Homo sapiens: one gene and its partner. The protein of the gene in region 1 purifies or fractionates together with the protein of each later gene. This does not show direct contact. Each region holds a gene or a part of one and is shown in the gene's direction. Other genes may lie near its edges.

The links.
Region 2: the proteins of ABCB5 (region 1) and KCNK5 fractionate together in Homo sapiens (co-fractionation; one large-scale study listed by BioGRID). This does not show direct contact.

What each region holds. Positions count from the first base shown.
Region 1 is NC_000007.14:20,754,263-20,757,508, forward strand, and holds the end of ABCB5 (ATP-binding cassette sub-family B member 5), read left to right. Parts: intron 1-1,164; coding exon 1,165-1,362; 3' UTR 1,363-2,746; downstream 2,747-3,246. UniProt on the Homo sapiens protein: Energy-dependent efflux transporter responsible for decreased drug accumulation in multidrug-resistant cells. Specifically present in limbal stem cells, where it plays a key role in corneal development and repair.
Region 2 is NC_000006.12:39,194,832-39,198,656, reverse strand, and holds part of KCNK5 (potassium channel subfamily K member 5), read left to right. Parts: intron 1-2,669; coding exon 2,670-2,781; intron 2,782-3,825. UniProt on the Homo sapiens protein: K(+) channel that conducts voltage-dependent outward rectifying currents upon membrane depolarization. Voltage sensing is coupled to K(+) electrochemical gradient in an 'ion flux gating' mode where outward but not inward ion flow opens the gate.

The sequences.
Region 1 (3,246 bases):
CCCAGGCAGTTAATCCACCCATGATTGCTGCTTGAAGATGATTATTATTCTTGATTCTCAAAGCAACAATGTGTTATGAAAAATAAACAACAACTAACTTTTGGGATCAGACATATCTGGGCTGTAATCCTTACTTCATCAGTTACTAGCAGTATGACCTTGGTCTAACCTCAGTTCAGTTATCAGAAAAATAAAAATACTGTCATTTTATGAGGTTATTGAAAGAATTTAAATGAGATATCCATCTTGGGAACATTTTATGTATTCAACAAATATGGGTTTTCACCTTCCACTCCCACTTTCTCTATATAGCGTCATAACCTCACTGTTGGCTGAAATGCTATGTTAACAGGACAGTTCTACAGCTAAATCCTACCAAAAACAAAACAAAATCTATGAGAGAAAATTAGATAAATAAATTAGACAATTCTACTTAGGTATACTACTTAGAAATACTACTTCCTGACTTTGAGTTTAGAACTACTCAAAGAAATGATAGTAGAAATTTGAATAGTATTAGAACTACTCAAAGAAATTGTAGTAGAAATACTACTATAATTCTACTTAGAAATACTACTTCCTGACTGTGAGTTTAGAACCACTAACATATAAACAACTATTTCATTTTTATTCATTCTCACAAATGCTTTTCCACTGAAAGTCTTACATAATTTATCTGTAGCTAATCTTTCTTTTTTTTTTTTGAGACGGAGTTTCACTCTTGTCACTTAGGCTGGAGTGCAATGGCACGATCTCAGCTCACGGCAACCTCCACCTCCCAGGGTCAAGCGATTGTCCTGCCTCAGCCTCCCAAATAGCTCGGATTACAGATGCCTGCCACCACACCCAGCTAATTTTGTATTTTTAGTAGAGATGGGATTTCTCCATGTTGATCAGGCTGGTCTCGAACTCCTGACCTCAGGTGATCTGCCTGCCTTGGCCTCCCAAAGTGCTGGGATTACAGGCATGAGCCAATGTGCCCAGCTGTAGTTAATATTTCTAGATTTCTATTGAGTAAGGTGATTATTTTACAAGTAGGGCAGTTCCTTTGGGGACAAGCAAATAAAGCAAAGAAGGTTATTAGACTACCTTAATTGATTTGACTTAGGTAAGTTTACTAACATCTAACTCAAACTGGTGATCACAGGTCTTTCTCTCTTCCAGGTGGTTCAGCATGCCCTTGATAAAGCCAGGACGGGAAGGACATGCCTAGTGGTCACTCACAGGCTCTCTGCAATTCAGAACGCAGATTTGATAGTGGTTCTGCACAATGGAAAGATAAAGGAACAAGGAACTCATCAAGAGCTCCTGAGAAATCGAGACATATATTTTAAGTTAGTGAATGCACAGTCAGTGCAGTGATGCTGTTGAGGTAGCACATATTTTGATGTTCGTGTAATGCAAAGAAGGAGTACTTAATAATTACTTGGCAAGCTTTGATCTCTTTTATTGCATATATCAATACCTAGAATCATGCTACTCAAGTACATACATGTTCTATTCACACACCATCTGACCTTCAGATTTTTAAAAGGAAGCAAAAATTTGCTTATTTCATGTAAGTGAAATAATGCTTATATCCTTCACTTTATAAAACTATTCTAGCACATTTGCTTGTAAAGCAGTTTTCTACAAGGTGAATTTATTTCCCATCAACTTCTGCTATAAAATCGGAAATATGTTTCCAGGGGGAATATTATCCAATTAACCATGTTGAAGGTTTTAGCAAAGGCAGTGTAAGATAGAGTGGGGCCTGTAGCATTGCAGGGAGAGTGTCTTTCACTTGGAATTTTGTTTTGCAGCACATATTACAGTAGTTTTGCTAGTCCCTTTTCTCCAGACCGTAGGGATTTCTCTCAATAAGTATTCACTATTTCTCTAAATTTTATTCTATTTTTTTGTTGAGCAGGGAATAGAAAGGATTACGATGTAAAATTTCTGGGAGGATTAGGTAGCTATCTCCTACTTCACCAGTAAGTGAAGTGCCTCACATGAGCCATCCCAAAGATTCATTATTCCAAACCTTGGGTTTGGCAGTATAAGTCACAGGCCTACCTGTTTATGAAAACTTACTTACTTAAAATAAGAGCTACTTTTGGGCCGGGTGCGGTGGCTCACGCCTGTAATCCCAGAACTTTGGGAGGCCGAGGAGGGCGGATCACTTGAGGTCAGGAGTTCGAGACCAGCCTGGCCAACATGGTGAAACCCCGTCTCTACTAAAAACACAAAAATTAGCCAATCTTGGTGGCGGGCACCTGGAATCCCAGCTACTTGGGAGGCTGAGGCAGGAGAATCATTTGAACCTAGGAGGCAGAGGTTGCAGTGAGCCGAGATCTCACCACTGCACTCCAGCCTGCGCAACAGAGCGAGACTCCATCTCAAAAAATAATAAATAAGAGCTAATTTTATTGTGGGTGAAAATTTTTAAACGTCTTTCTCTATAATAAAATAATTTCCTTAAATTTTATATATACTTTATCATATATAATGTGTGAATGATTTTAAAGTTCTGTGTAAATAACAATATTGGTAAAATGAGTTACATTTTCAACTTACTTAAATATGTAATGTCACCTGGTGATTTTATCTTTATTCTTCAGTGTATTTTCTTCCATTTACACATTTAGCTAGCCTCCCTAAAGTGTACTCTACCAATAATTGAAATCTTGTTAAACAAAATTAAAACCATTTATATATTATGCTGCTTTCTTTAAAATGCAAAATAAAAATAAGATTGGGGACTTGAGAATCAGATGCATTGCTTAGACACATTGGTGCTGACTGCCATGTGGTTATTTTGCTATTCATGGATATAGAGCTCTTGGTAGCTTCTCTTCCCGGGGTAGGGTAGACAAGAAGAAAATAAAAATATAGTATGGACATGCTCAGAACCTCAGAGCAGGAGCACCACAGGCTCCAATTCTGTAATCCCTCCTAGAGGGGCAAATATGGTACCTGAAATGCCTGCTTACCCTTTGAACCTATCAACATCTGTCCCATACCTATAGATAGCAGTAAAACACATTCCTTTCTAATGTATAACCCTGCTAGTTTTTATTTCCATTTTATTTTTAATGAGTTTAAAGAACGCTTCACAGGCAGAATTCTCATCAATAAAGCCACTGCCTGCACTGGACCAAGCAATCATGCTGAGAATTGGGGTCCCAAAGAGTTTTTAAGGATTTGTAAGGTTATCAGCTGATGAAGGCAGAAAGTAGGTAGAGATCAACTACTTTTTAGGGGTTG
Region 2 (3,825 bases), on another chromosome or scaffold:
CATTTACTTTTCTTGTGACAGCAGGACAGTAGGATTACTGTTTGTTGATCCATGGTCAGCTAATATCCAGGGACTTTTCCCTTCAATCCTCTACCAGTCTTTTCCAATCCAAAGTATAAGACTTAAACATTTAAGTGGATACTTGTATGTTGTTGATTTTGGCCCCTATATCCAGCCAGATGATTTTGAATCTTGATACTGCCATTGCTATGTGTTAGCTATCTTCCCATCCCATCCTTATCCCCAATTTTGCATCCACTGCACATTGGATTAGTAAACCATCTCTGTCCTCACTGTGCTGTGGTTTAAAATATTGAAGAAAACCAGGCCTTAAGCATGATGGTGGAGACTCAGTCTGGGTTGATAATGATCAATACCTCCTAGGGTTGTTTGTCTGCCTTTGAATGGACCCAATTAATCCTGGCTCCACTGACATTTCTGTGTCTTGTCCACATGAATTTCTTTAATCCCATCTGTTAGCTGCCTTGCTGATATCTAGATGGATTACATTCCACAGAACTTCAAGGCTTTGCAACCCTTTGAAAAGGAGATGCACTTAGCTGAGCATGACTTGTTCTGGGTGAATCTGTGCTAGTTTCTAGTGCCCACTACTTCCTCTTCTGCATGTTCCAAACATTCTCCTCTCCCCATTTTGAAGTTTGCAAGAGTTCAGGTTTGTTTTCTGAATTTCTAGAATCCACTCTTTTCCTTTTTGTGAAAAATGGGAACAGCTTGTCTTCTGACATCTTTCCTGTTCCCCATGATTCCATGGGGATGACCAGAGGTGGTGCTGCAGCCTCACCTGTGATCAGTGATTCAATTATCATTTCAAGATGTTCTTGTATGTTCTTATATACTCTTTTCTTGTAGGCCGGTCCCATTCAAGATCGATATCTGAGGTAGCAAAGGTAGATGCCAAAGGAGAGCTGGGTGGTTCCGCTTTCTCTGCCATCTGTTTAACATTAACGTGGCCCTGGTACTTCCTCATTCTCTTGCTCCAAACAGATTTGATGTTTTCAGAAACCCATTGGATGGTCCTTAGTATTTGTTTTAGCTCTCCTGTTGGCCTGTTAGTATCTAAATGTCCTTTAGCCATTTCACATTGAAATGGTCTGGCCAGCTAGACAGAGAGCTCTCTGAGGGCAGGGGCTGCCTTGGCCAGAGTTTGATGCGATGGTCCCCACTTTCCACTTTGATGCTGCACAGCCTTCGTAGCCTCGGAGATGCTGTGAAATGCCGGAGGAGGCAGCGCAGTGAGCTGTGTGGTTTGATGGTCTGACAGACAAGCGTGCCATCATGGAAAATTCTTTGCAGAGTGTGCAGATCCATTTACGCAGGCCGGCTGCTGCTTCTGCAAATTACACTTTCCTTCAGAACAACCCACCCATGCCCTTTTTTTCCCACCAAACCTCAGTCATGCTCTGGGTAGGTTAGAAACAAGGTTTTTTTTGTCTCCCTCTGTTTCCATCCCTCACTCTTCTGTCTCTTCTCTCTCAGTCCTTGTCTTGGTTTTTATAGGCAATTTGGCTGAATGCCTAGCTTCTGGTCTGGATGGCCTACCCATCTGCAGGCGCTCCTTGGGGACAGGACTTGAGCCCCAGATTTAGAGTCCCTTCTTATGTGACTTCTGGGGTCCAGGCCCTGCCAGCTGATAAAGCCCCACAGATAGGTTGGAGCCAGTGGTGATAGCAGAATTGGGGCCTAGTCAGATGGAAACAGGTTTGCAGCTGTCAGTATTGTAGGAGTAGATAAGTTCCCCACACCTCTGCCCCACCGCTCCTCGCACTCTCCAGGGGGACATCCCATCCCCAGGTGGCCTCTCACCTGCTATCCACAGTTACTGGAAGCTCTTTGGGGATTGATAGCACAGTTATGAGTCACCCTGAAATGTACTCACCCTCTGATCTGTCCCTTCCCAGACAGCTGCTCAGCCCAGGGCAGAGAGAGAAAGGGCTACAGGGAAGGGAGGGAAGTGAGATCCCACAGGGGAGAGGGTACATTAGAGTCCTAGGCTGGGGGAAAGGAGGACCTGCTGATTTGCATGCCCTCCGAGGACAAGTCAACAGGGCACTGAGCTGACCTGAGCAGGTATCCTACAGTAGGCTGAAGGGTATATGGGGGGCCCCTCCCCAGCCAACCCTGAACAAGGACCTGGTCTCTGCAGGTAGAACACCCTCCATGGAGGGCTGGGTGAGGCACAGGGGACCTCCTTGTGTGTGTCTGCCTCACATGTGCTTTTTTTGAGAGGCAGAATTAATCTAGTGCAGTGGTTCTCAAAGTGTGGTCCCTGTCCACAGCATCACCTGGGAACATGTTTAGAAATGTTCCTTCTAGACCTCCTAAATCAGAAACTCGGAGTAGTAGGGGCCAGCAGTCTGTTGAACAAGATTTCCAGGTGATCCTGGTGCATGCTAGTAAGTTGGAGAAGCATTGACTCAGTGAAAGAATGAACTTTGGAGCCAGATTGCCTGGGTTCATATCTTTACCTTGGGTAAATCAGGTAACCTCTCTGATCCTCTATACAATGTTTCATCTGTAACATGGAGACACTGCCACCTTCTTCTTGTGATGACTAAATGAAAATGCTTACAAGGAGTTTAGTGCAGTTCTGTCAATCAGCATCTGTTAAGTGTGGCCTCAGCTCTGACCTTTACTGTTTCTCATTTTAGGTGGTATCTGATGCTGCAGGACAGGGTGTGGCCATCACAGGGAACCAGACCTTCAACAACTGGAACTGGCCCAATGCAATGATTTTTGCAGCGACCGTCATTACCACCATTGGTAAGTCTTCTGGGACCTGTAGGACACCCACATCCATGCCCTAGCTCCTCAGAACCTTTCTAGAAACCCAGCTCTGGTCACTCAGCCCTGTTGGGGGTACAATCAGATCAGTTGCAGGCTATTCTTTTGATACTTTCTTAGGGATTTGTTAAGTCCTTGGTAGCTGATCATGCCTGGGAAGGTTTCCTTGAGTCTTGACCTGGGCTCTTTGAGCAGAAACAATGACACAGCCTCATGGCCAGAGCCATGCAAGAGATTAACCAGACTGCTCATTGCAGAAACCCAGATCATGACTACTTACCAAGCTGGGTGTCTGTTTCAGTTCTCAGGCTGCATAGCCAACCAGTCCAGAAGTTTGGCTCAGAACGCAGCTTCTTCTCTTTCACCATTCTGTCAGCTTGACTGGGCTCAGCTGGCTGGTTCTTGCTTGGGCTCCCAATGCAGTGGCAGTCGAACAATGGCTGGGCTGGAGTCTTCTGAAAGCCAAACTCATCTGATGGCCCAGATGGCTCCTCCCATCACAGATTTGACAGTTGATGCTGGCTGTTGGCTGGGAGCTCAGCTGGGGATGAAAACACAAGGCCTCCGCATGTGTTTGGGAACCAAGGCGAAAAGCAGCAGGCTTCTTAGACCTCACCTGTCCAGCGTCTCTTCCGCTGCCTAGACTGCTTCTGTTGTCAAGCCACTAAAGCCCAGATTCCAAGGGAAGAGGATTAGATGACACCTTGATGTGAGCAGTTGCATAAGAAGGGAGGGAATGGAGGATGGCTATCTTTGGAGACCATCTACCACAGTGCTTCTGGGGAATCTACACAGAGAGCATGTCTTATAACTTGCACAGTGGTACCATATAGACTAGTGGAAGACCTGTTGACCAGGCTTAGTCCCTGCCTTCAGGGAGCTCCTTGTATGATGGAGGAGATACAGCTCATGTCATCATAATTGCTTTATCAATGATCATGATCAGAGTATGATCAAGGGAAATATCATTACTTAAGTACTGACAATAGATCAATATCAATTTATCTTAGAGAACGGGCTGTG